Linked DNA regions of Homo sapiens. The main gene of each other region encodes a partner of the protein of the gene in region 2 in a complex. Each region holds a gene or a part of one and is shown on either strand. Other genes may lie near its edges.

The links.
Region 1: STRN (region 2) and PPP2R1A share a complex: the UniProt entries of both Homo sapiens proteins name them as parts of the core of STRIPAK complex.
Region 3: STRN (region 2) and STRIP1 share a complex: the UniProt entries of both Homo sapiens proteins name them as parts of the core of STRIPAK complex.
Region 4: STRN (region 2) and PDCD10 share a complex: the UniProt entries of both Homo sapiens proteins name them as parts of the core of STRIPAK complex.

Annotation. Positions count from the first base shown.
Region 1 is NC_000019.10:52,207,032-52,214,056, reverse strand, and holds part of PPP2R1A (serine/threonine-protein phosphatase 2A 65 kDa regulatory subunit A alpha isoform), read right to left. Parts: intron 2,798-7,025; coding exon 2,565-2,797; intron 1,372-2,564; coding exon 1,224-1,371; intron 1,103-1,223; coding exon 947-1,102; intron 1-946. UniProt on the Homo sapiens protein: The PR65 subunit of protein phosphatase 2A serves as a scaffolding molecule to coordinate the assembly of the catalytic subunit and a variable regulatory B subunit.
Region 2 is NC_000002.12:36,963,523-36,970,401, forward strand, and holds the start of STRN (striatin), read right to left. Parts: upstream 3,015-6,879; 5' UTR 2,942-3,014; coding exon 2,708-2,941; intron 1-2,707. UniProt on the Homo sapiens protein: Calmodulin-binding scaffolding protein which is the center of the striatin-interacting phosphatase and kinase (STRIPAK) complexes.
Region 3 is NC_000001.11:110,030,000-110,037,648, reverse strand, and holds the start of STRIP1 (striatin-interacting protein 1), read right to left. Parts: upstream 3,026-7,649; 5' UTR 3,012-3,025; coding exon 2,832-3,011; intron 2,241-2,831; exon of another isoform or gene 2,210-2,240; intron 1-2,209. UniProt on the Homo sapiens protein: Plays a role in the regulation of cell morphology and cytoskeletal organization. Required in the cortical actin filament dynamics and cell shape. Part of the striatin-interacting phosphatase and kinase (STRIPAK) complexes.
Region 4 is NC_000003.12:167,724,888-167,731,912, forward strand, and holds part of PDCD10 (programmed cell death protein 10), read right to left. Parts: intron 587-7,025; exon of another isoform or gene 514-586; intron 1-513. UniProt on the Homo sapiens protein: Promotes cell proliferation. Modulates apoptotic pathways. Increases mitogen-activated protein kinase activity and STK26 activity. Important for cell migration, and for normal structure and assembly of the Golgi complex.

The DNA.
Region 1 (7,025 bases), on a different chromosome or scaffold from region 2:
ATCTGTCTGTCTGTCCCACACCTGTGACACTTTATAATCAAATTTCCCCTAAGTCAGTCTTCCCCTTCAGACTGCCTAGCTCCATGAAGGCCAGGAATGATCCGAATTCACTGGCCCAGCAAATAGCTGGTGCTCAGCAAACATGTTTGTGGGATGAGGCAATCTGGATCCCTGTGGAAGGAGCACTGTCCTGAGAGTCACAGACCTGGAGTCTTGTCCCCTTTCTGCCTGGCTGGTAGTGTCACTCTGATCAGTTAATTAAACTTTCCGGGGCTGGGCGCGGTGGCTAACACCTGTAATCCCAGCACTTTGGGAGATGAAGGCAGGCGGATCGCTTGAGGTCAGGAGTTCGAGACTAGCCTGGCTAACAACATGGTGAAACCCCGTCTCTAATAAAAATACAAAAACTAGCCGGGTGTCGTGGTGGGCATCTGTAATCCCAGTCCCTCAGGAGGCTGAGGCAGGAGAAATGCCTGCACCCGGGAGGGACAGGCTGCAGTGAGCCAAGATTGCGCCACCACACTCCAGCTGGGTAACAAGACTCTAGCCTGGGCGACAGACTCCATCTTAAAAAAAAAAAAAAAAAAAAAAAAAAAAAACACCAAAAAACCCCACCTTTTTGGGCTGTCTTCCCCTTTGTGAAAGGACAGCTTGATTATGTCAGGAACACCCCACATGTGCTACCCTTCTCTGCTCCTGTGGCACTTTCCTCCACGTAGCCTTAACTTTGCCTCAGAATCTTTCTCAAGGCAGCACTTTAAGATGCCATGTCAATCAACCAGGATTGGCACACGAAGCGAGACGCAGTTAGATGATCATAGAGATCTTATTGCTCAAACGCCCAATGGTTCCATCGGCCTAATGGAAACCTCAGCTCCTATATGCTTCCCTTCTGAGAGTGTCAGTGTCCCCACCAGTGGGACAATGTCAACGGTCGCTCATCTACCTCTGTGAACTTGTCAGCCACCATGTAGCGGACGCGCCAGGACTTGTCTTCAGCGGCCTGGCGCAGAGTGGGCATCACCAGGGCCTCCAGATCCTCCTGGGGCAGAAGCTGGGCGATGTTCACGCACGCCTCCACCGCCAGCAGCCGCACCGAGTCCTAGGGAGAGGAGAGGAACAGTGGGAGGGCAGCAGAGGCCTTGCTGAGCTCTGGGATTCTCTTTCATGGGCAGGAACCACCAGAAGGACGGGAGAGCAGAGGGCCAGGAAGCAAAACTCACCTGCTCGTCAGAGGCCAGGTTGGAGAACATGGGGATGATCTCACTCTTGACGTTGTCCAGCTCCAGCACCTTGGCAAACTCCCCCAGCTTGGAGGCTGCGGCCCGCCGCACCATGGGGGTGTCATCTGAGCACAGGTTCCGGAAGTACCTGGGAGTCGGGGACGGGGATCCTGAGGCAGCAGGCAGTATGGCAGAGAGGAGCAAGCACAGACTCTGCAGTTGTGTGGGTCCAGGTTTTAGCTGAATGACCTTGGGCAAGTGATGACCCCCTCTCTGTCTTCCCAGCCCTATGAAACGGAGCTGATAGTAACAGTACCTACCCCACAGGTCCGCATGAGGTTTAAATGAAAATAGTGTGTGTGAGACACTTCGCAGATTGCGCATAATAAATCTAGTCAATGCTAAGTGCTGACGATTACATCATTCCCATAAAAATTGCTTAACCAACGAGCCAGGCACAGTGGCTCATACCTGTAATCTGAACACTTTGGAAGACCAAGGCAGGAGGATTGCTTGAGCCCAGGAGTTCAAGACCAGCCTGAGCAACATAGTGAGACCCCATCTCTGCCAAAAATAAAAAATGAGCCCAGCGTGGTGTTGCACACCTGTGGTCCCAGCTATTTGAGAGGCTAAGGCAGGAGGAATGCTTGAGCCCAGGAGGTTGAGGCTGCAGTGGGCTATGACTGCACCAGTGCACTTCAGCCTGGATGACAGAGCGAGATCCTATCTCAAAAAACAAACAAACAAAAAACTGCTTAACTAAGAGGCAGGTCTAGAGCCACAGAAAGGCTTTATTTTTCAGCAGCAATTGCTTCGATCAAAGGCGGTGGGGGCCAGTGTAAGTATCTAAGCAAGTGTACAGCCATAAACCAGAGTTCTGGAGTGAGTCAGGCTCAAACCCGGGCTTGACGGTCAATCGTTTGCAAAGTAGACGAGCAGGAGGCTGAAAACTGAGGTGGTTTATCTGCCAAAGGCACTGGACCTGGGACAGGCTGGAGATACCATCAGATGTAAGTTGCTGAAAGTTTTTATGTTCCAGATTTTGCTCTAAGCACTTTATGTGTGATAATTCTTTTAAATCCTCACATTAACCAGTGGGAAGGAGGACCTGTCATCATCTCAATTCCTAAGTGAGCAAGGGGGCAGAGGTGGGTAAACTGACACGTGGCCGTGTCCAGAGACCAACTCTCGAGGATGTGGCCTATCAGGTGGTAAGCAGGAGTGGGAGTGGAGAGAGTTCAGGGGCATTTGGGCCCCAGCTAGACCAAAAGGAGTCTGAGGCTTTAGAGAAGGTTGGAGCTGAGATGGGAGCTTGGAGCTTCCAAGGAGGCAGAGACTCACTGTCGAAGTTCCGCCTTCACAGCACTGGACACTCGGGGGTAGCAGACGGAGAAGAGGCCGCAGGCCGAGGTGCGGGAGGTGAACCAGTCGCCGCCCGCCAGCCGCTTCACTAGCGGCACAAAGTGCGCCTCCAGGTCAGAGGGCGAGTGCTCGTGTGAGATGGCCCGTAAGGACTCCACTGCCTTGTCCCGCACCACTGTCTCCTCCACTGTGGCCAGCGACTCCAGCGGTGGCTGTGGTGAGAACACAAAGTCACTGGACAGCTCCCTCTCCACCATCCGCAGCCCTGGAGCCCCATCCTGCACCCCATCATGGGCTCATCTCCTCAGAGAAAACTTCCCTATTACCCATCCCGACCTTCATTAAAATAGCCTTTAAAAATGGTTGCAATGAATGACTCAAAGGAAAAACGTAATATTATGCCAGCCAGCAGAAGGTCTCTGTCAGCGTGCCTTCCACAAAGGTTCTTATTTAGGGGTCCTTGAAGGAGTTTCACTGGGGTCCATAAACCTTAAAATTACACACGTTGCTTTCTGAGGAGAAAGTTCTTAGCCTCTCAAAGTGCAATGATCATCACTGACACTGTGTAGAACATCTACTCACTGTGTGTACTAGGCAGGACCTCCGTGTTGTACCAGGGGTGCTTGTTCTTCCTCACTGAATTCTATAAAGCAAGTCCTGATTTTAAAGAAGAGAAAACGGGCCGGGCGCAGTGGCTCACGCCTGTAATCCCAGCACTATGGGAGGCTGAAGCGGGTGGATCACGAGGTCAGGAGTTCAAGACCAGCCTGGCCAATATGGTGAAACCCCGTTTCTACTAAAAATACAAAAAAATTAGCTGGGTGTGGTGGTGCGCACCTGTAATCCCAGCTACTCGGGAGGCTGAGGCAGAAGAATCCTTGAACCCGGGAGGCAGAGGCTGCAGTAAGCCGAGATCGCACCACTGCACTCCAGCCTGGGCAACACAGCGAGACTCCGTCTCAAAAAGAAAAAAAAAAAAAAAAAAAAGAAGAGAAAACTGAGGTACAGCCTGGCTTGCCCAAGCTAGTAATAGCTACAGGTCAGGATCGAAAACCTGACCTAAGCTTCCCATGAACAGTTACACACAGCTCTGGTGACTGAATTGGGATCTCATGTTTCTGGGGGACTATGGGGCTCGGGACTGCTCGCTGGTTGTTACTGTGGGCCTAGAATGACTGTGCTCCTTCAGATACATACGACTGGCTCTCCACTGTATCCCCAGAGCCCAGCAGCACTCTTAGCACAAGACAGGAACTCTTAATTAGTGACCTACTGAAGGGAGACTCAACTTATCCCAATATGTTCAAATAAAGGTGTGGAGGTCTCTGATCTGAAATTCAACTTGGGCTGACAGGTATTTAAAGCAGGAAAAAAAAAATCATAAATGGAAATGCCTCCAGGGCTCAGTCAAGTAACAGAATGATGCCATCAGCCAAGGTGACAGGCAGGGGTGGCAGGAGGCATGAATAGGAAGAGGCAGGCACTGTGGCACCCTGGAGGGCATGTAGCCCAGGGAGGGCAGGTGCTCCCCAGCTCCAAGGACTGTCACTATGGGAGAATGCAGCTGGCAATAAGCAAATCTGGTTTTCCAAATGCAGCCCTCAAAAAAACTCAAGAATCTTGTATGTGAGAAGTCTCATGTAACACATGCTACAACATGGATGAACCTTGAAGATGTTATGCCAAGGGAAATTAGCTAATAGTCATAAAGACAAATATTTTCTGATTCCACTTATATGAGGAATCTAGAACAGTCAAACTCCTACGGTGGCTGCCAGGGGCTGGGGGAGAGGGAAGGGGGAGCTCATGTCCAATGGGTTTGGAATTTCAGTTTGAGGAGGTGAAAAATTCTGGAGATGGAGGGTGATAATGGCTGCACAATGTGAATAAACCTACCGCCACAGAGCTACACACTTTAAAATAATTAAAATAGCACATTCTATGTATATTTTTACAGTAAAACTAAGAATAAAAACAAATGTTTAAAAATAGCATTTAAAAATAGTTGCAATGAATGATTCAAAGGAAAAATGTAATACTAAGCAAGCCAGCATAATGTCACTGTCACAGGTCCTCATGCTATCGTGACGTCTCAAGTTCAGGACAGTATCATGGGAGTGTGACCATAGGTGCGGTGTGACTGGGATACTGCAGGGACAGAGTTCCTCTTGTTCACCTCAGTTCTCCCACCACCTGGGCTGGCACAGAGAAGGTACTCAATCAACACTTGCCAAGTGACTACCGGTGGAACTTACGGCAATCTGTTATAAGGAGGCCTGGGACAGAGGCTGAGCAGTAATTATGTAAGCCAAGGTTCTCTTCTCCTGTAGGTTACTGCAGGAAGTAGTTCTCAAAGGATGATCCCTGACCACCCTGCAGCAGAATCACCCGGAGGCCTATCCCAGCATGGACCAAAACAATCAGAATATCTGGAGGCAGGGCCCAGGAAGGTACACATTTAAGAAACTGCAATTGATGCCTTTGCACAGTGAAGACTCACTACTGTGAAGCCTCTCTGTGAAGTCTGGGGGCAAGGGTTCTCAAACCTGGAGACCACACAGGGTAGGGAAGAGTGTGAACCGCCTAAAATCCTGTGTACTTTTATAAGAAGAGGGTCCAGAATTTAACAGATTCTCAAAGGGATCCATAATTCCAAAAGAGTTAGGAACTGCTGGCCGGATGCGGTGGCTCACGCCTGTAATCCCAGAACTTTGGGAGGCCAAGGCAGGTGATCATTTGAGGCCAGGAGTTCTAGACCAGCCTGGCCAACATGGTGAAACCCTGTCTCTACAAAAAATACAAAAATTAGCCAGGCATGGTGATGGGTGCCTGTAATCCCAGCTACTTGGGAGGCTGAGGCTTGAGAATCACTTGAACCCGGGAGGCAGAGGCTGCAGTGAGCTGAGATTACAACACTGCACTCCAGCCTGGGTGACAGAGCGAGACTCTGTCTCAAAGAAAAATAAAAATAAAAAGAGCTGCTGACACAGAAACAACCCTCACACCCAGGCACGGTGGCTCACACCTGTAATCCTAGCACTTTGGGAGGCCGGGGTGGGTGGATCACCTGAGGTCAGGATTCCGAGACTAATCTGACCAACAAAGTGAAACCCCGTCTCTACTAAAAATGCAAAAATTAGCTGGGTGCGGTGGCACACGCCTGTAATCTCAGCTACTCGTGAGGCTGAGGCAGGAGAATCACCTGAACCTGGGAGGCAGAGGTTGCAGTGAGCCGAGATCCCGCCACTGCACTCCAGCCTGTGCAGCAAGAGTGAAACTCCATCTCGGGAAAAAAACAAAACAAACAAAAAAACAATCCTTACACTGCAGCTACAGGAGTCTCTGTAATTAATTCCATTTCACCACTGCTGAGAGCAAGGGCCGGGAGTGGGTCTGACACATCTCTGGGTTTCCATAGCCTAGAGACCTTGCTCAATGTTTGTGGAATGAAGAAACTACACAAAGCCATTTTCTATTTCTTATAACCTGTCAAAATCCAGGTTAACAGCCACCTCCTCCAGGAAGCCTTCCCTGACAACTTCCCATCCCACCTAAGCAGGTTAGGCGCCTTCCCTGGGTTTAAGGACCCCCCTGCCTCCCTTGTTTACAGCTCTGAAAGCAACCAGGAGCCCTCTGAGGATAGCACATAGGAGTGGCTAAGAATTAGGGGCCTGGGATCGAATCTGGACTCTGCCTCTTCCCAGCTCGGACAATTCACTTAAATCTGCCTGTGCCTCAGTTTCCTCATCTGGGCAATACAGCTAACATCAGTATACAACTGTGTAAGGCTCTTGGGATGTGCACTGCAGGCAACGAGCAAGCACAAGCTATTCTGATCTAACTCTTCTCTGGTTTCCAGCACTGCCTGGCCCAGACAGCCCCAGGATGTGTCTGCTGGCTGACATGAACGTCAGGCACATCGGTCACAGGGAACTGCTTCCCAAAAGGAAGCGTGGCTTGACTGGGACTTTCCTCACTGAGAATGTTCTGTTGGGAGACCCTGGCCAGGTAGGAGAAGGATCCCTGGGTCCCAGCCCAGCTCCACAGCAAGCCTGAGTCCCAACCTCAGTTGCAGACCCTGGGGGCCCTTGTTGAAGCCTTGCGGTTTCATAAAAATAATGTCTTCTGCTCCTAAGTCCTCTGAGAAGCTACTGAAAGCTATGAATTCACTGCTCAGAAGTTCCACCTGACAAATACCAGGCAGGGGCTACAGATAATTTTGTGAAATTCAAGGAACCCCTTCTAGGCTGGCCCCCAAACCTCATCATGCTCATGTTAAGCCCTGTTTTGTGTAAAATGTATGAAACGATCTATTTGTATACAATTTTCTGTGTGTCCATACGCACAAATTATACACATATGCCCAGATGAAGGCTGAGATATCCGAATTTAATGGTAACTATCAAGTTTCTTTACATAATGCTATTTGGGAAGAAACAA
Region 2 (6,879 bases):
AGGGGGGACAAAGACCAGAGATTACTGCAAACTCTTCCCCCCAAAATATATCATATTCATCCTGTTAGGAAAATGACACATTTTTAAAGTTTCTCTGTGGAAACTTTAATTGGAACACAAAACAGAAAATGCTGTCAAAAAAGTAGTGTCCTTGGCCGGGCACAGTGGCTCACGCCTGTAATACCAGCACTTTGGGAGGCTGAGGCAGGCAGATCACTGAGGTCAGTAGTTCAAGACCAACCTGGCCAACATTGTGAAACCCCGTCTCTACCAAAAATACAAAAATAAGCCAGGCATGGTGGTGCATGACTGTAATCCCAGCTACTTGGGAGGCTGAGGCAGAAGGATTGCTTAAACTTGGGAGGCTGAGGCAGAAGGATTGCTTAAACCTGGGAGGCGGAGGTTGCAGTGAGCTAAGACTGCACCACTGCACACCGGCCTGGGCAACAGAGCGAGACCCTCTCTCCAATAAAAGGAAAAAAAAAAAGGAGTCTCTTTAATATGATAAGCACCCATGGGAAAGCTACCTGAAGTTAATAAACATTTGCCACAAACAACCCAGGAAGGGGTGTTTGGAGATGTGTGCATAAAAACTGAAGATCAACTACAGTTACCAGTAAATTGAAAAGTTTAAACGAGGAGAGGGAGTGAACGGGGCGGGGCGGGGGGAAGGATGGGTTGGAATTCCCCAACTTCTACAGGTAGAAAGGTAAGCATTGTTTTCTGGTGTGTGTGTGTGTTTTGTTTTTGTTTTTTTTTTTTTAACCAAATTAGTGTGAGTTATCTATATTCCCAAAACTGGAAAAGAAATTAAATTTTAAGTAACTAATACAAAAATCATTCCCCACAACTGCACAACATTAAAGTTAAACTTTGCCTTTAACATTTCCTTGAATCCTGAAATCCACACCTTTTATAGAATGCGCTGCTAATAAAGATCAATCTGTAAGTATTCAAATTTGTTGGAGACTATATAAACAAGGTCAAAGAAGACTTGCAAATATCAGATAGACTAGATCGACTAAATACTACAGCAATATAACAATAGGAATGAAAAAGTTGCCAAATAATATAAACATGTAACTACAGACTTACAAGGAAATCATAGAAACTACTGGTCACTCCCTAACTTCATTCAGCTGCTCATTTGTCATCTCTCAGAGGCCTACCCTGACTACCCCATCTAAAATAGCTGCCCCTATCACACGCTATTCCTGAACTCTGACTTATTTCTTCCTCACAGCAGTTGCCACTATAAGCCATTATATTCTATAGGCGCATTTGCTGGACTGTTTGCCTCTCCACTAAAACATAAACTCCATGAGGGCAGAAGCTTGGTCGGTTTTCTTTCAACACAGGGCCTAGACACACAGCTGGCACTCAATACACAGGTGCTGAATAAAATACATGATAAAACTGAAACCCAGAGAGGTTAAAGGATTTCCTCAAGGTCACAGAGCTAGCAACAAACACAGCCCTTACTATAACCTTGTCTACTACAGCCTTGTGTGTTCGCTCTTTCCACAGCCACTTCCACTACACCAGAGCCTGTTCCAGCACATGATTCTATTTAACAGATTTCTCCTCTTCTTTTTTTTCTTAAGCGCCAAATACATGTTACCAAAAAAAGTGACACACTGGGTAGCATTTTAAACTCAAGTGTTTTGCCAACTAAAACTATACTCAAATTTCATAAGTATACAGGCTTAGCCCGTAAAACAGAAAGGCACAACTATTCATAGTTCTTTAAGTTCCTTTTGAAATTGGTGTGTATGCCCTGGAAGTTTTAAGAACAACCACTGAAAACCTATTCACCAATTCTGAATGGCTTGTAAAGTATCAGCCTCACTTTCATTCTTTTCAGAGCCCACAGTTATCTCCTCCCTGGATATACTTTATCTTGCAGATTATGCAAGGCAATGTAACTAACTTCAAAGTCCCTTTAGTTCCTTTTAAAGCACAAGAAAATCTCCCAAAACACTGAACATAAAATTAACCCTTGGGAAGTTTCAGATTCTGAGAACAGGAACCACCTCTTAACCATTCTCTCTGACTGCGATCATCTAGGTCCTTCATTCAAAATGCATTAATTGGAAATACCTAAAAGAAACGTGGGAGGGGGCCGGGGGGTCGGAAGAAAGTGGAGAACAGACATTTACATATATAAAAAAAGGGATCTGATATATGAATAACACTTTTGCCCAACGTCAACTTCTCGCCTCGACTCAAGGCCTGACACAACTTCTGTTGTCTTCTTGATCACCTTCCTTGAAGAGAGGGGCCAAAGCCGGCACGTTCTGCGGAGACTGTCTCTAGACCTAGGAAGGGGCACACCAGGGCAGCGGACGATTTGCTCCGCGTCTCTCAAAACTACTGCCAGCCCAATTAGTAAACCGAGAGGGCAGCCCTGAGATGCAGGATGGCCAGAGAGTTGAAATGAGTCTGGGAGTTAAGAGTGGGATGGGGCGGACGAACAGGCGTGGGGAGGGTAAACAACGCACCAGGAGCGGGAGTGAGAACAGGGTCGAGGTGGGGTCAGCGAAAGGCAAAAGGCGAAGAGAAGAAGGGGACGGGGCTCCGGGTGGGATGGGCGGCAGCAAAGGGGGAGGGGACGCGAGAAGGCTGGGGGAGGGGGAGAAGGGTCCGGGGCGGGGCGGAAGGGAGCAAAGAGGCGGGATGAAGACGGCCAGGCCGGGAGGGTCTTTACCTGCAGCTCCGCCCGCTCCACCTCCCACTGGGCTCTCTCCACCTCGAAGCGGGCCCACTCGTGCTGCAGGAAGTGCAGGATCCCCGGGAGACTGTACTGGGCTCGGGCCGCCCCCGCCGCAGCCGCCCCGTCGCCGGCCGCGGCAGCCTCCGCCAGAGGCCCGAGCCCCTTGGCACCGCCGGCGCCCGGGTGGTTGTTGCTGAAGAAGACGCCGGGACCCGCCTGCTCGTCCATGGCGGCCGCAGATACCCGGGGAGCTGCCCCGGCGCCCAGCAGCGGAGGCAACAGCGGCGGCAAGCAGCGCCTCCTCCTCCCTCCGCCGCTCCCGCCCACACCCCAGTCAGCAGGGAGCAGCCTCCTGGGCGCGGGGGCCGGCCGAGCCCGTGACGGGCCGGGAAATGGGTCAACTGCGGCGCGCTGGCGGCCCGGGGCTTGCCGGGAAATGTAGTCGCGGGGCGGGGCGCGGGCTAGCGCGGCCCGGGCGGCCTGTAGGGCTGTGCCTCAGCTTGGGCGTGGCCTCGGGCCCGCCCCGCCCCGGCTCGCCGCGTAGGGGGCCGGCTGGGCGGGGAGAGCGGGTTTCCTCTGGGGCCGGCTGGGCGCGGGCGGGCGGGTCTCCAGTCTTCCTCGCACGCGGAAGTTCGCGGGCGGCGCACCCTGTTGCATTCAAAAACACACACACACACACACACACACACACACGGAAGTTGTCACGCCAAGATACCTGCCCGAGCTGCACATCTTTTAAGGCTTCCTGGCCGTTCTGTGAAGGAACAGGCTCAAAGCGAGCTACCCGGTGCGGCCGCGGGACCGGGGTTCTCCCGCCAGCTGCCCTGCGTGCTCTCGCTTCGGCTTCGTGTTCGGAGTTTCTCTCACCCTAGACGCTCCTCCATTCTGCCAATCTGCGGGTCGCTGTCGCTCTTGCCTTTCTCTTTTGACTCGAGGGGCTCAAACCTGTTACCTGACCAGTTTTCATTTCTAAGGAACGCCGATCACCTTTCTAAGACAACGCCGCAGCTTTCTGCTGCTGCTTCCAAATTGTGGTTTGTTGACAGCCCATCTGAAAAACTGCTCCGTTGAAGTTTCTTTCCCTTTGCAGTCCTCCTGCAGTAAATCCTGTAAAAGTTTTAGCATCCAATAATAGATGTTCTGTTATTTCGGTCTCATTTTTCCTATCTTATTCCCGCTGATTTTTACTCTACTTAATTGAACAAATATTTTGATTATCGGTTTTCTCTTGCGCTGGGAATATTAAGATAAATGACATCGTTTCTGTCATCAAAGATTGGCGTATAATCAAATATCACAAAGGCTTAATTTAAAAGCTACACCACCTTGAAAAAGCAAGTTCCCTTTCTGCTCCCTAGCGCGGTCTTAGATATCCTGGCCCCTCTCCGTTTTCACTTGTCCTGTTCCCAGTTTCTTTCACGATTCACCTGCCAACTGGCAACAGCATCCGCCTACCAAAGGTACACCAAAGTCCTTTCAAGTTACTCTCTGTAAATATTTGCCTTCTCCGAAGTCTGACAATATGTCACTATAAATTCACACTACAACAGTGGCAAAAAGGAAGGCCCCTGAAAACAATTTAACAAATGCAAATGAAATTAAGCACTTATTTTGTCACCCTAACAAGTTATCTGAAATTCTTACGTTTTGTAGGACGTACTTGTGGGTTATCAGACTTGATGGCCATGAAAAAATGTAAAGATCTAGGCTGCTGAGTGACATGTCAGGGAAAGACATCCTGTCCCTGTCCTCTCTCCCCTCCCCCCCTTTCCCATGGCTACTTGCAGAAAGGACAGGAAACACATTGTGTCTGCTCTGGTTGCAAATAAAGATGGAGAACTCTCTTCTCTCGCTTAATTAATGTTTCTGCTTTATGAATTCATTCTTTATTATCATCAAAGATTGATCCAGGCCTGGCCAAATTCCCTGTGCCATAACTTATTTTGGCTGTCAGTGTCCTTTGAGATACAGCCCAGTCTTCTCATTTACAGCTCAAGGAACTAAATTCCAAAAAAATTGAGACTTGTCAACAATGAGGCCTTGAGTGAGACGACATATCCGACAATTCCTTTAAGTCAATTCATAGCAGACACAAAATGTAATTAAATGTATAGATAATCTGGACTACCACACATATACAAAAACTATTTTAATTCGTAGTTCAACTTTATTACTCACAATACTTTTTTTGCTTTACGAGGACTCATTTACATTTTGGCCAGGCGCCATGGCTCACGCCTGTAATCCCAGCACTTTGGGAGGCCGAGGCGGGTAGATCACTGGAGCCTGGGAGTTGTGGGCAGGAGGCAGGAGAATAGGGTCTGGAGGCAGGGAACGTAAAGTAGATTCAGGCTGACTACCTAGAACTGAATCAAATGGAAATACTTCAGCTATAACAGGAAATGTCCTCTCCACTTACATAGGGCGCACACCAACTAAATGACGTTGTAACTTTACTTCATCCTCTTCATTTACATAGGGCGCACACCAAGTAACCAGTGGAAACCTCTAGAGGGTATTCAAACCCCAGAAAATTCTGTAACGGGACTCTTGATCCCCTATGCTCGGGCCTGCCCCTGCACTGTGGAGCCTACTTTCATTTTCAACAAATCTCTGTTTTTGTTGCTTCATTCTTTCCTTGCTTTGTGCGCTTTCCCCAATTCTTTGTTCAAGATTTCAACAACCTGGACACTCTCCACCGGTAACAGTTGGAGAACAGCCTGGCCAACATGGCAAAACCCGTCTCTACTAAGAATACAAAAATTAGCCAGGCGTGGTGGCACATGCCTGTAGTCCCAGCTACTTGGGAGGCTGAGGTACGATAATCGCTTGAACCCGGGAGGTGGAGGTTGCAGTGAGCCAAGATCATGACACTGCACTCCAGCCTAGGCAATACAGTGAGACTGTGATTCAAAAAAAAAAAAAAGTTTTAAAAAGAAGGCCTTCCCTTAGAGTTCTGGTGCCCTAAGTTGCCTTAAAACTATAGGACTATGAATCCCATAATTATCACTTATTGGTCCTGGCACGGTGGCTCATGCCTGCAATCCTAGCACTTTGGAAGACCGAGGCGGGTGGATTACCTGAGCTCAGGAGTTCAAGACCAGTCTGGGCAACACTGAGAAACCCCATCTCTACTAAAATACAAAAAAAAATTAGCTGGGCGTGGCAGCTTGCGCCTGTAATCCCAGCTCAATTCTCTCATTTTTTAATATGGGAATAATAGTCACCTAATAAAGTTGCTGTGAAGTTAAATGGAAGAAAAAAAGTAAATCCCCTCTCATAGTGCCTACTATATGGTATATTACGGAATAGTGATAGCTATTATTGCAATACAGTTCACAAGAGTAACTGAAACAATATATGTAAAAGAAACAGTCCCTGGTAAATTCTAGGGGCTCAATCATTGTTCTCTCCTTTCTCATTCCCTATTCAAAACTTTAAATTAGTAGAGTTAAAATAATCTTTAAAAAACAAAAACAGGGCCGGGTGAGGTGGCTCACGCCTGTAATCCCAGCACTTCGGGAGGCCGAGGTGGGCAAATCACGAGGTCAGGAATTTGAGACCAGCCTGGCCAACATGGTGAAACCCCGTCTCTACTAAAAATTAAAAAAATTAGCTGGGTGCAGTGGCAGGTGCCTGTAATCCCAGCTACTCGAGAAGCTGAGGCAGGAGAATCACTTGAACCTGGGAGGAGGAGGTTGCAGTGAGCCAAGATCGTGCCACTGCCCTCCAGATTGAGCGGCAGAGGGAGACTCCGTCTCAAAAAAAAAAAAAAAAACAGGCCGGACGGCGGTGGCTCACACCTATAATCCCAGCACTTTGGGAGGCAGAGGTGGGTGGATCACCTGAGGTCAGAAGTTTGAGACCAGCCTGGCCAACATGGTAAAACCCCATCTCTACCAAAAATACAAAAAAAATTAGCCAGGCATGGCGGTGTGCACTTGTGGTCCCAGCTACTCCAGAGGCTGAAGCAGGTGAATCGCTTGAAACCGGGGGGCGGAGGTTGCAGTGAGCCAAGATCACGCCACTGCACTGTAGCCTGGGCAACAACAGCGAAACTCCGTCTCCAAAAACAAAAACAAAAACAAACCATGAAAACAAAAACAACCCCCCCCAAAAAAAAAAAACTAACGTCTATGCCCAATCATTAAGCCTCAGATCTCAAC
Region 3 (7,649 bases), on a different chromosome or scaffold from region 2:
ACAAGAACATCATCCATTTAACTTACCAATGATTTCACAAGGTCCAGCATGGTACCTGGCATGAATAAGTGAATGAATGAATGGTCTATACACACATATTTGTTAAATGAATAAATACAAGGTTTCTATGTATTTTGTGCAGTAAATGACCATTCCATATGATGCTATGATTCCAGAAGTCTTAACTTCTTTCTGGCTAGTGGACTGTCAACAGCTCAGGACAAAAATGAGTATTGAAACCCTCAGCTTTCCCACCTTTGTCTCAAATTTCAGTGAGAACTGACAAAGAAGGCAGCCGCCAAACAGATCAACTTCCCTCCCACACATAAGAGAAAATGTGACAAAGACAATCTTTTTCCTGCTGGAAATAGGTGATTACTGAGAACACACCATCTTGGAAGCCTTGTACTGGGAAGAGAGAAGTGAGAAACAAATAGGTAAAGTCCTTAGGTTTAATTACAGTCTACCTGGGAAGACAAAGACCAGCCACAAAATGACACAACATACCCACAATGGCCAGGCGAGGTGGCTCATGCCTATAATCCCAGCACTTTGGGAGGCCGAGGTGGGCGGGTCATTTGAGGTCAGGACTTTGAAACCAGCCTGGCCAACATGGTAAAACCCCGTCTCTAATAAAAATATAAAATTTTTTAAAAATATATTTTTACATGGTGGGGCGTGCCTGTAGTCCCAGCTACTCGGGAGGCTAAGGCAGGAGAATCGCTTGAGCCCCGGAAGTGGAGGTTGCAGTGAGCCAAGATCGCGCCACTACACTCCAGCTTGGGAGACAGACAGAGACTCTGTCTCAAAACAAAACAAAACAAAACAAAAAACATACCCACAAACAAGAACTCCACGTTGTGTTCAGAGATAACACAGTGTACACTTTCACAAGTTACTGAGCTTCGGTTTCTTCATTCATTGAATGGCAATGATGAAAATCTACTTTGAAGATTTTTAAGGACTAATCAAAATTATGTAGTACATAGTGGGCTCTCATCAAATGTGAGCCTCCCTGTCCTCCAGGCATTCACTGATCAGGCTCCCAAACTACCGATTTCAGCTATGACTAAAGAAAGATCATGGCATCAGACTCTCTATAAAGAAATGGATTTAGACAGGTCTCTGCTTAAATGTGTCCATTTGACTGGTCTTTCATGTAATGAGTCTATGAGGAAATTTTTTTTTTTGAGACGGGGAGAGTTTCGCTCTTGTCACCCAGGCTGGAGTGCAATGGTGCAATCTCGGCTCACTGCAAATCTCCACCTCCCAGGTTCAAGCAATTCTCCTGTCTCAGGCTCCTGAGTAGCTGGGATTACAGGCACCAGCCACCACGCCCGGCTAATTTTTGTATTTTTAGTAGAGACAGGGTTTGATCACATTGGCCAGGCTGGACAGGAACTCCTGACCTCAGGTGATCCGCCCGCCTCGGCCTCCCCAAGTGCTGGGATTACAGGCGTGAGCCACTGCACCCGGCCTCTATGTGGAAATTAAAGGGTACAAAGAGAAATTACAATTCGTCAGAGGGTATCTATTTGACCATTCGTAGCTACTCTGGAAAATTTTAAACCATTTTTCAAAATGATAACTCCTCTCATGATGAAGGTAGGTTCACCCCCCTGCACTTTCGTAATCTTCCACTTGAAAAACTGAGTAGTTAACACTGATGTCCGTCATCCCACCATGCCAGGGCTCCTAAATGGTCAGTGTTTTTGTTTTTTTCAAATAATTCACTCCAAGCTCAAATTACGTCTACTTCGGGCTTGCCAATTGTTGACATGTTTTCTCAGGGGTTTAGCCTTGCTAACAAAAAATAAAAGCTTCTGAGGAACTGATTCCACAGGTCTAAAGGTAGTATCATTGCTCTTTGGTATGAATTGGTACATTATGCTTGGACAACTAGGAATTCCCTCTCATTAACTTGGCTGATCAGTTTGGCTGCTGATCAATCTAGGAGATGGCATAGTAAGTGCTCTGGGAACCTGCTCATTAAGAAGCCCTAAAACTCCGCGACATGAGTATCTTCATTCATGAATTCTGCAAAAGGAGGCAGTGGGAGGAATTCCTTAACTTGGGGTGAGGTTACTAGTCAGTTCCAGACTATGCCATCTCCAGAACGGCAGGAACGGCTCACTAGCGAGACAGGAAGGAATGTTGGGTCCTAACGCATGCTTAAAATGTCTATTTCTCATCTTTAACAGTTCAGTATCAGGCGCACTGGGCACAATAGCCCACCACAGGTACTGTTAACCCATGGCCTGATCTGGCTCAGGTCAGAAGAACAGGACATGTTTCCCCCTCCTACTCTACTCTCAATGATAATTAGCTCGGTCCGGCTCTAAGTTCCTTCCAGATCCTCGCCGGCGCCTTCCCTGCCCACACGCGCCTTCCTCTGCGAGCGGCAGGACCCAGGAGCTGGAGCCCGCGTGCCAGGGACAGACGCCCGAGATGATTAGGTTGGGGGCGCGGCAGCCCAGCGCCCTGGAGTGCACCAAGACCCCCGACTCCTCACCCCCGAGCTGGGGCGAGAGCGGCTTCCCCAGGGGCTAGGGCCTCGAGGCCACGCCCACAGTCGGGGCCCAGGGGAGCAAACCAGCAGTCGCCGGCCACGGGAAGCTCTCCCGGGCGGCGGAGCTAGAGCAAGGACTCATGCTCCAGACCCCAGGAGCTGCCAGCCTCGCTTCCTGCTCCTTTCGCTGTATAGTGACAGTTCTCGGCCGGACTCTACCGAGCCCTCCGGGAAGCCCAACCTGGCCCCTAGAGTGGCCCCGGGCCCGGGACCCCCGGCGCCGCCCGACCCGGTGCGAGCCTCGCCCCCCGAAGCTCCTGACCTCTGAGTCTTTGCGCTGGTTGCGGTTGAACTCGCGGGCTTTGCCCCCAGGCAGGAGGCCCGCGGCGGCCCGCGGTGCCCCGGGTGGTGGCTGTGCGGCTGCCGGCGGCGGAGGTGGCGGGGGCTGGGGCTGTTTGTTGTTCACGATCAGTGGGCCCGGACCGCCGACTGCCGGCTCCATCTTGGCTGCTCCACACCCCCAGCTTAACTCGCGCACAGCCGCCGTGATGCAACTCTCGCGTGATTTTCTCCAGGAAATTTCCCTGGCCGCCATATTAAGTGTGGCGGCCAGTGTTAGAAGCCATCTTGGCTGACCAATACCTCGCGATATTCTGTCTGCAGTCCTTCCCTTGTTGATCTTTTTAGTTTTCCACCTTCCTTTCAGTTTCAGTTTAGATGTAATTTTATCTGTGAGGCTTCCCTTAGCTTCTTCAGTCAGTTTAGTTACCCCTCCTTCCTCTAAATCGCTTTGCACTTATAACTCATAGCCTTGTTCAAGGCTTAGGCGGAATTTTGTAATGAACAAAATGGATAGGATCCTAGTCTTCACAGAGTTACCGTTGTGACAAGTGCTTGTCATTCATTCATTCAACAAACATTTAATAAATGTCTCCTGTGCACCAAGCAGTGGGATAAAATGAGGAACAAGTGTCTGCAGTCACGGTACATAACAGTGCTTGGTGGGTCAGACAAACAATAGACAAATATAGAGAAATAAATGCTGAAAAGTGTTAAAGGAAAATTTGTTCATGGCACTAATTAAAGATGGTAAGGCAGACTTTATGTAAGAGAGCCCATGGTGATAGTTACAGGGACCACTACAACCAGATCTTGCAGTGAAGAAGAGGAATTAGACTCAACTCTGACTCCAACAAGATATAGTGGGGATTTATAACCAAAGAGCAGGATGAGGGTCAGTGGACGGAAAACTACTAAGAGAAACATCAAGGATAAGAAGTTTCTTGCTAAACTGACCTAACAGGATTATTGCTGAAAGCAGGACAGGGTGCTAAGATGTTGAGGGTGGTCAGATACCGAGTGCTATGGTTTGACTGTGTCCCCCAAATTCCATACGTTGGAAACTCAATCCTAAAGTTCATATGTTGATGGTATTTGGAGGTGGAGCCTTGAGGGGGTGATTAGGATTAGATAAAATCGTCAGGGTAGGGCCCCTGTGATGGGACTGGTGGCTTTATAAGAAGAGGAAGAGTGATCTGAGCTGGCACACATGCTCTTGCTTTCTCACCGTGAGAGGCTCTCTACCATGCAGTTTAAGAAAGCCCTCACCAAATGCAACCCCTCGACTTTGGGCTCCCCAGACTCCAGAACTGCAAAAAATAACTTTCTTTCCTTTATGAATTACCCAGTGTTTTGTATTCTGTTATAGCAACAAAAAATGGATTAAGACGCCAAGAGTGGAGAGTCCCTGCACAAACTGGATTCAACAAGGACAGAAAGGAAGCCCAAACGGTTAGTCCTAGTAGGCAGAGGACTCACAGGAGCCTGACTAGAGTTTTGGCCAAAGAAGAGAATCTTTGTCAGAAGTAACAAAAATTGAGAGGTTAAAAGGTGGCAGTGGGGCGGGGGGCAGGGGTTGGTGGAGGCGGAGAATGTGGCTATAATATAAGCATGCTGCCCAAGGAAGGCAGGCCTGAGGGTGTGATTTTAGATGAGTTCTGAAAGAAGTGAGGAGAAGCCCTGCAAAGTTCCAGGAAGGGCACACAGACAGATGAAACAGCTAAATGCAAAAGCCCTGATGTTAGTGTCTGGAATTGAGTGAGCCAAGGGAGGGATAGTAATTGATAGAGCCATATAATGATAATGCAGGGACCAGAAGAATGCAGGGCCTTGAAGGTAGTGGGAAGGAGTTTGAATTTTATTCTAAGTGAAATGGAAAACCATTCGAGGGTGTTAACCAGGGAGATGTTATGGTGTGATGTTTACAAGTTCAATCTGGCTGCTTTTGGAGAAGGGATTGGAGAGTTGCAAGAGTGGATAAGGCAAGACATGTTAGGGGACCATGTAGATGGAGATGATGGTGCTTGTACCAGAGTGGAGCATTGGGTTGATATTTCTATATTGTGTAGGTAGGGGGACAGGATTTGCTGGAATCTTATCAGCTGGGTAGGGGAAATAAACAATGACCCCCTTGATCTAGGTTTGGGCAACTGAGTGGATGGCTGTATCACTTTCATAAATAAGTAAGCTCGAGAGTAAGAAAAACAGGTTTAGAGGAAAGATCAAGACTTCAGTTTTGGACACATCAAGTTTGAGATACTCATCAGACATCTTAGAAGTGTTGCGTAATAATAACTCTTACTATTATCTGTTGTTATACTGTGAAATCCTTAAAGGCATTTTATCCATCTTTGTCTCTCCAGCTTTACATATTGCCTGCTTTACACCCCAGGCTCAAGTCCAGAAAGTCCCTGTGATACAACTCTCCAGTGATTTCCCCTGAGGTCCAACCTAGTAGGTGCTTAAAAAGTCTTTGTTGTAAATTAATAAATTAATCCAAAACCACCACACTGCTATTTCCTCCTACCTATCTTCCTGTGCCTATCATAAGCTGTATCACCCGGGGAAAAACATTTTTCAGCTAAATTTAGAACAGGGAGGGTTTTGGTTCCATAATTCCACTTCTAGTAATAGATTCTAAGGAAATAATCAGATTTAGATAAAGATAGGTGTATGATAATATTCAGGCAATGGTGTTTTCAATAGTGTAAAGTTGGGATCAACCTAATTTGAAAAATAGCCAATAAGAAAATGGCTAACTTTGAGGGGCCAGGCACCGTGGCTCATGCCTGTAATCTCAGCACTTTGGGAAGTTGAGGTGGGAGGATCGTTTGAGCCCAGGAATTTGAGACCAGCCTGGGCAACAGAGCGAGACCCTATCTCTAAAAAAAAAAAAAAAAATCAAATTAAAAAAATTTTTGAAAAAGAAAAATGGCTAACTAATGGAATGGGGCATGCATAAGACAGAATATACAGATCTAGAAGGAAAAAGAATCCCAAATGTGAAGGAGCAGAAGCACAGCTGGAGAGCTCACTACTCTAACTTGCTAGGAAACTTTGCGAAAAGCACAATCCAGTAGAGAGTAGAAGCTGTAGAAGTGTCTTCATGCACTTCTCTTTTTTTTTTCCTTCCCCATCTGTAAAATGAGAATAATCCCACCTGTATTTTTGTCAGAGATGTGTGAACCACAGCAACTCCATCTTGAACAGGGGCTGGGTAAAATGAGGCTGAGACCTACTGGGCTGCATTCCCAGGATATTAGAGCATTCTTAGTCACAGGATGAGATACGAGGTCAGCACAAGATACAGGTCATAAAGAACCTGCTGACAAAACAGTTTGCAGTAAAGAAGCCAGCCCAAACCCACCAAAATCAATATGGTGATGAGAGTGACCTCTTGTCCTCCTCACTTTTACACTCCCACCAGCACCATGACAGTTTACAAATGCCATGGCAACACCAGAATGTTATCCCAGATGGTCTAAAAGGGGGAGGCATGAATAATCCACCCGTTGTTTAGCATATAATCAAGAAATAAGCATAAAAATGGGCAACCAGCAGCCCTCGGAGCTGCTCTGCCTGTGGAGCAGCCATTCTTTTATACCTTCACTTTCATAATAAACTTACTTTCACTTTACCCTATGGACTTGCTCTGAATTCTTTCTTGTGAGAGATCTAAGAGCCCTCTCTTGGGGTCTGGATTGAGACCCTTTCCTGTAACATTTTCAGCCATGGTGGCATGCGCCTGTAATCCCAGCTACTCAGGGGGCTGAGGCAGGAAAATCGCTTGAACCTGGGAGGCAGAGGCTGCAGTGAGCCGAGACTGCACCATTGCACTCCAACCTGGGTGACAGAGGAAGACTCTGTCTCCAAAAAAAAAAAAAAAAAAAAGAAAGAAAGAAAGAAAGAAAGAGAAAAGAGAAAACTATAAAGCATTGTTTGTTTTGTTTGTTGGTTTGTTTTTTTAAAAAAAGGAGAATTATTACCAAGAGGTGATACCCAAGGTGAGAAGCCCTTCCTTCACCACGAGCAGTCATTGTTCAAGAGACTGGAGGAAGAAATTTCCTATTTGAGCCATTCTAGTATTGCAGGAGTTGCAAGAACATAGTGGCTGCTCCAGTTGGGCTCTGTAGAAGGAAACTGGCATGTATTCTGTGCCTACAGGGTGTCAGGTACTGGGTAAGATGTTTCACATTCATTGATACCTAAGTATATGCTGGGATGCAGAGTGAGCCTGTTTCTAGCAATTTCCATCCTAGCCCTGGACTGTAAATACATTGCTGGTCACTGAAATGCTCAGTATTAAAGTAATCTGTATAGCATATAAAACATCTGTGGGTCCAGTCTTACCCTCTAGTTACTGTGTCACATGGAGTTCTCTCCATTAATGGTTATGAGAAGAGGATAATATTAATAATGTTTTGGTTAATTAACTAATAGGGCAGATAACTAATAGTTAATTCTGTCTTCCAAAGGGACCAGCCAGCTTCACTCTGTCTCAGGTCAGATTAACTTATAAAATCTCAGCTTTCTTATATAAACATGAATTAGTCAAAAGACTAAGTCAAAGCTGGTCATGGTAGCTCATTCCTGTAATCATAGCGCTTTGGTAGGCCAAAGTGGAGGGATCACTTGAGATCAGGAGTTTAAGACCAGCCTGGGCAACATAGTGAGACCTGATCTCTACAAAAAAATTATAAAATTAGGCATTGTGGCGCGCCTGTCATCCCAGCTACTCAGGAGTCTGAGGTGAGAGAATCGCTTGAGCCCAGGAGTTCTGGGCTGCAGTGAGCTGTGATCC
Region 4 (7,025 bases), on a different chromosome or scaffold from region 2:
CCCCAAGAGTTGGTTAACCCAGGATTTCAATTAACTGACAATTCCTTGCTTTCTCTCAATAATATAACACAGAGAATCATACTCATCAGCTGGGCACGGTGGCTCATGCCTGTAATCCCAGCACTTTGGGAGGCCAAGGCAGGTGGATCACTTGAGGTCAGGAGTTCAAGACCAGCCTGGCTAATATGGTGAAACCCCATCTCTACTAAAAATACATAAACTAGCCAGATGCGGTGGTGGGCTTCTGTAGTCCCAGCTACTCAGGAGGCTGAGGCAAGGGAATTGCTTGGACCTGGAAGGCGGAAGTTGCAGTGAGTCGAGATCGTGCCACTGCACTCCAGCCTGGGCAACAGAGCGAGACTCTGTCTCAAAAAAGAAAAAAAAAAAAAAAAAAAAAAAAATCACTCATCAAACTCTTAGAGAAAATGGATTTTTACAAAGACTGTATAGATGGTAGTCTGGCCATTTAACAAAGCGGGGTGGGGTTAACATTTGCTGACACAGTTTACGTACCTTTTTAGGGCTTTCTCATGCCAAAATGCTGTTAGTCACTTCCAAACAAGAGACCAAGATTTAGAGGAGAAAGCTAGGAAAAAGGGAGGCAGAGGAATAGGGTAAGTCAGTGATCCTACTTAGAGTAAAATGAGCTTGATGTCTTAAGGATATACCTACATCTCTCTCCTTGACTTGCAAATTACATCTTCTATAATTCAATGTCTTCCATTTCCAGTTTTCTTAATAAAGTTAAGTGGAACCTAACCTCCCTGAACATACACTACTGTCAGTTTAGTACTTACAGAATTTTACACTTAGGGACATCTAGAAGCAATCTCTTGTTAATGGTAAGTGTATATAGCACTTTACCATTGTATCGTTTATATATATATATATATATATATATATATATATATATATATATATATATGCTTTAAAAATATTAAATGGACAATTTGTGCAGAAAGATACAGGGAAAAAGCATAAGCATTTAAAGTCTCAAAGCATGGGCTCAAATTCTGGTCCTGTCATTCATAAACTATCTTTGTCTCTGAACAAGTCATTTCACCTCTCTATCCTTTGGTTTCTTCTTTAATATGTCTGACAACTCTAGGGTACTTAGCAGCACAAGCTTGTGGATCTTCAACTTGGTGCTGCTGAGACTTCCAGCTCATCTTAAAAGTTAACTGCACCATGTCAAGTGTATGCACTTACATATTTTGTAGAGTACTGTTTTTTTTTTTTTTTTTTTTTTTTGAGACAGAGTTTCACTCTGTCACCCAGGCTGGGGTGCAGTGGCGTACCTCCACCCAGGTTCAAGCGATTCCCCTTCCTCAGCCTCTCGAGTACTGGGATTATAGGCACCTGCCACCACGCCTGGCTATTTTGTATTTTTAGTAGAGATGGGGGTTTCACCATGTTGGTCAGTTTGGTTTCAAACTCCTGACCTCAGGTGATCCACCCGCCTCAGCCTCCCAAAGTGCTGGGATTACAGGCGTGAGCCACTGTGCCTGGCCAGAGTACTGTTTCTTAATACAGAAATTTATAAAATGGGTAAGAAGTAACTTTTTCTACACATAGATAGACAGTATACAGCAGGAGATAGTGCTCAGTTTGGAAGGAAAAAAACCTCAGTTTGAATTTTTGCTCAGCTGGATGCTATCATTTCAGTTTTGTAAATCTCTATTTCTAAACTAGTGAGAAACAGAAATACTGAAGTACTCACTTCCCCAGATTAAGAGTACTAACTGCATATAAAATAGTTACTACAGTGGCTAACACATAATAACCATTCTATTCATATTGTTATTAATATTTTAGCCAAAATTCTAGGAACCTGACATGGAATCGATTGCAACTAGGGTGAGGCAAACCAGATGCCTAGAACACAAAATTTTGCTCTGATTTGCATGACTGAGAGAGTTAGTGCTTCTTCAAAGTTTGTACCCTAGGCATATCTCTTGCCTCACCCTAGTCCTGCCCCTGCATAACATACACAATGAGAGTCAAACACTGATATCACAATGTCATAAAGGCCACCTACATAGCATATTTTCAAAACCTTTTATCTCCCATTTGCCAAAATGGATGCATAAATACACTTAGTTTTGGCTTACATAAAAGAATTTGGCCATCAGGTGCATTTTAAAACTTTTTGCCAAACCAATGTTAAAATTACTTTTCTAAATGTACATAGATAAACTTAACAAAGGAAACCATGGCCCAGAAGCAGGCTGGGTAGCAGGCTGGGTTGCACACTGAAATCAAGATGTGATCAAAGCCCTTGAGATAATTCATAAAAGGTTTATAATCTGTACAAGATAATCAAAAGTTGACAACAAAATTAAAGAGCTCATTACCTCAGAATTAGCTGATGGGAAATGGAAACAGTAACAAAATAGTAACAATTGGCTCCTACGATATTTCAAAGCAACTTGTTCAGGGGGAAAAACATACATCTCTTTAGTTGTGACAATCCTCATTTTTTTTTCCTATGTCTAAATTTTTGGTAAATTCTGATCTGAGTAAAATTTAAATGAAAACACTTGTTGGAAGACAGGAAACAAATCTGTCCCCTTGAATATGTTCATCTTTTGCCCATAAAGTTCTCAACCTAATGGTTCATGAATAATGCCTAGTTGAATAGTTGTTTGGTGTTTAATTGAGGTACATGTCTATTTTCCTTTTTATTAGTATTATTCCTTGTCTTAGTTTCTCCAATACGATGTTAATTAAAGCTTTCCTTTAAAATCCCTTAGAAATTCAACTAAACTTAATTCCTCAGAGTGTTAGGTCCTCTCTGCTTAAAGGTACAATTAAAAGAATCTGTACCACCCTGGATCAGAGCTACTTGCTTTGTATCACTTATAATCTTAGATACCTAGAATTTAACTTAATGACTCCTAATGGCTTAAGATCCTCTAAAACATGCAACAGGTACTTTCATTACTTTACACAATTTCTTTGCACCAAAAACACTGCCACAGGGCACTCAAATGTTGACAGAAACTATTAGCCCCAGACAATAAATAGCCTCTGCCTTATTTAACATTAGGTGCTAATGAGGCCAAGGTTCTATCTTGATGATGACATTTAACTTTACCTTTAGCTCCCAATTGATCTCAAATACAAATACTATTTCTTACAAGAAGAAATTAGGGCTAGGATAGTATCTGTTTTTACTGCATCTACTGTTCCTCCTGTAACCTTCACTTCGCAAAAGTGTGATTTATTTTTTAAGGGAGCATACCAAAAATAAGGTAGAACCTTGGAAATCTCTCAAATTTTGACAGTACTGCATAAATACCGATTTTAATATGGATAAAGACATAGAGAAAGATGTGCAGTTCTCAATAAAAAAAAAAAAAGGATTCCAAATGCTTTGGAATTAAATGAAAAAAAGCCTAGCAACAATCTAAACTCGTATAGGGTGCAGTTGCTGTCTAGAGGCCAGGTCTGACTCATTTAACATTCCCAACTGGCTTCTGTTGTAGTAACCTTATATAAGTCTGAGGAGGCAGCCGGTGTGTAACATCTTAGGGTTTTGTCATTCCATAACTTCAATCTCAGTTGAATTCCAGTCTATCTTGAAGTAAGAGAGAATGACTGAATAAGACAGGGAGACCCATTTCAGTGCCAGGGACCAGATGGCAGTTAGAGAAACAATCATTTATTTTTCTATCAGCTCTAACCTAAAATTGTAAAATGAACTGATGCACATGGAAGTACTTAGTATATTAGAAAGACTAAATGTCCATACAATGGTCTTTCAACCCTTTCCCCTTGTATCTACTGAAGTATAAACTCCCTAAAGAGAAGTTGTATCCATTTCTCTATTTCCTAGTATCCAACACAGTATTCTGCATAGTCAGTCTAAGTCAGCAACAGTGTTAGTTGGAGATATGGTGATGAAAAGTCAAACAGCACATACCCTTGAAGGTATGTAGTCTTGGCAGGGAAGAGAGACAGTAAAGAAATACAGTGACATGTCACACTGCCACTTGGCATTAACACTCCAGGGAGCGTACCTGCTTCACATGATACTCCTACCCTATGCAAGTTCAACAGACATGGTGAACATTTGTTTGAAGAAAACAAACAAAAAAATAACTTCACTAAAAATAACTACTGCAGTATGTGATAATTCCATTCCCTATGCAAAAGTCCCAGAATGAGACAGATAAGAAACGTGGATCTGCCACTCCCCACACCAGACTGAGAGCCACAGTGAGCTCTCACAAAGAGTAGCTTGCCACACTGATTGTGACTCTTGTATTATAATATACATATTTCTTTTTTCAATATGGTCTCTGCATAACAAGTCAAACACTTCACCTGGTACTCAAAAGAAATCTACTCCAATGCTAGAAAAAAACTGGCTGTGTTGAAGTTGTTAGTCTACAACGTGTATTTCCTAATAGGTTTTTTAAAAAGTTTGAATATTAAGTAATTTCTGCCTGCCACACTGACCTTAGCATTTAAGACATAACTGCTCTGTAACTACAACTCTTAATGCTAATTTCTCTCTCCAATGCAGTTCAATCACTAACATCATTTTTACTATAATGATGAAAAACATGGTCTCTTGAGTCAGCCAGCCTGGATTCAAATCCTAATTCCAAGCAATTTTTCCTGCAACCGTAGGCAAGTTCCTTAACCTCTCTGTACTTTAGTTTCCTCATTTAAAAACTGGAGATAATAGTGCCTCTACCTCGAAGGGTTGTCGTAAGGATTATAAGAGATCCTGTAAAATGCTTATTAGCATGAGACTTGGCACTTAGTTACTTAATACTCAATAAATGCTAGCTATTATATTAGGTTCCAGTTCATTCCAAAGAAGGTTTAAGGCAATTTCACAAGTAATATGCATTCAATAAGTAAATGAATCAAAAAGTCATTATTTAGACTAACCTCTGGTAAACTTATTCCCAAGGGACCAGCCTAAGTATATGTTAGTGACTACCACTTAACATGTTCCACTGCTGTTACCCAATAGTTCATAAGCTTGTTAATAAAATTCTTTTCTTTTTCTTTTAACCCTATAGGCAACCTGGATTCTATCAACTGTATAAGAATGAAACTGAACAGCAGAAAATCACTTTTGGGTGATTTTAAAAATGGTTATACATAACCAAAAATGTAAGGGTGAGCTTGAAAAATAAGTGTAATATAATACACTTAAGACACATTTAAATTTTGTAGCTTAAATGACAAAATTGAAATTACCATCTTCATACAGACAAAAATGAACCATCAAACCACAGTGTTTATCTTTCAGCACATAAATTATTTCTAATTGCTATAATAAATGTGCTTTCATTTTTTGCATTGTGTGTGTGTGTGTGTCCCTAAAGCATAACCCTCTAACACTGCAGCTTACTATAATATTTCAAATGCAATAACATAGATAACAATGACATTTAACTTCTAAATCACTTTTACAGTTTATATTATGGAAAAAATTACTTATCATGTAAGTGGCTTAAAATTCTTAGTAACACCTATCATAATGATATTAATTATCCAACAACATATAAAAAGCAGTATTTCAGTTTTATCCTCCACATACTGGTTATGCTAGGTAAATATGAAAATTTTATCCAAGATTCAAGTAACATCAACACTGACTTTTTAAAAAGTAAGTTTAGGATTTAGCAAAGACTTGTTTTTAATAATAAAATGGATAGTATTACCAAATTTTAAAGCCAAATTATCAGCAATCTCTTTTTGACAAGATCTTGTGGAAGAGTAAACTGGTAAATCCATGAAGGCATACAAGGCTACAGAAACTCAGGGCTGTTGACCTTACTCTATGCCATACCGTGGTACTACAAATGACTGCAGAACTTGTTTCCAAGACCAAAACCTAACACAATTTATCCCTAAAATTCAGTTTGTATGTTTTAAAAATAATCTTTTTATGCTTAAGTCTCCAGCTATAAAGCAAATAAGATTAGAAAAGTATTAGAAAAATTTTCAGGAAACCCAAAATATAAGTTCCTTTGAAACAAAAACTACTCAATTTTACAAAGCCACCTTGTCTAAATCAAGTGATATTAAAGGTATAATTCATAGGAAGATAGCAAGGTTAAAAAGCAAGAAACAAAACAAAAAAGCAAAGAAAAAGAAAAAATTATGGATTCTAGAATACGGAGATAGATCCAGATTCTAACCATGGTTCCAGTACCAACGTTCTGGAAACTCTAGCAATTTAATTAAACTTTTTTTAGTTTAATAAGTAAATTTACTTATTTTCTTGATGTCTTCAGCTATAAAACAGTATTAATACTACTACCTAGAGGAAATAAAGGTTTTTAGGGCAAAACGAGACAACATTAGGGAAGAAGAGTCCATTAGAAGTTTCTTCCATGTCTATATTTTGTTATAATGAATATCGCTTGCAAAAAGCAGGACAGTGATAAGTCTCTAAAATGCTGTGTTACACAGCAATTCTGCGGCAAATGAAAGTGATTCCTTTATCATTTCCACTTAGAAAATTAATCCTGATTTCAGAGACCTCCAAAAAGAACAAACATTTTTCCACAATTTATATTAAAATTCTGTCAATGACTCCTTTACATATAACCTAAATTGCCTAAGCATTATGGCTCATTTGAAAGTTCTTATATACTTCAATCCAGAAAGCATATCCGCTTTATTCATTTCTCTATTTCTGTCCCCAGAGAAGTGCTGGAAGCACTGTGCATGAATACACTCCTTCATTCATTCAGCAAATATTTACTGAACCCTTACAATGTGCCAGGTACTGCGTAAGTAGTGGGGTAAAACATGACAAATGAGAGGGCCCTGCTCAGGGAGCTTATAGTCCAGTGAGGAGACAGTATTTGTCAAATAAATACAGAAATAATTAAGTTTCTATTATGATGATGCCACAAAGGAGTACAGAGTATGGTGAATACATGGCGGAAACCTATTCTGATTTTGGGAAGGCGGGCAAGGCTCCCCTGACGAACGATATTTAAATTGAGACGTGAAAACTGACTACCAGGTGGCCACATTTAGGTAGGCGT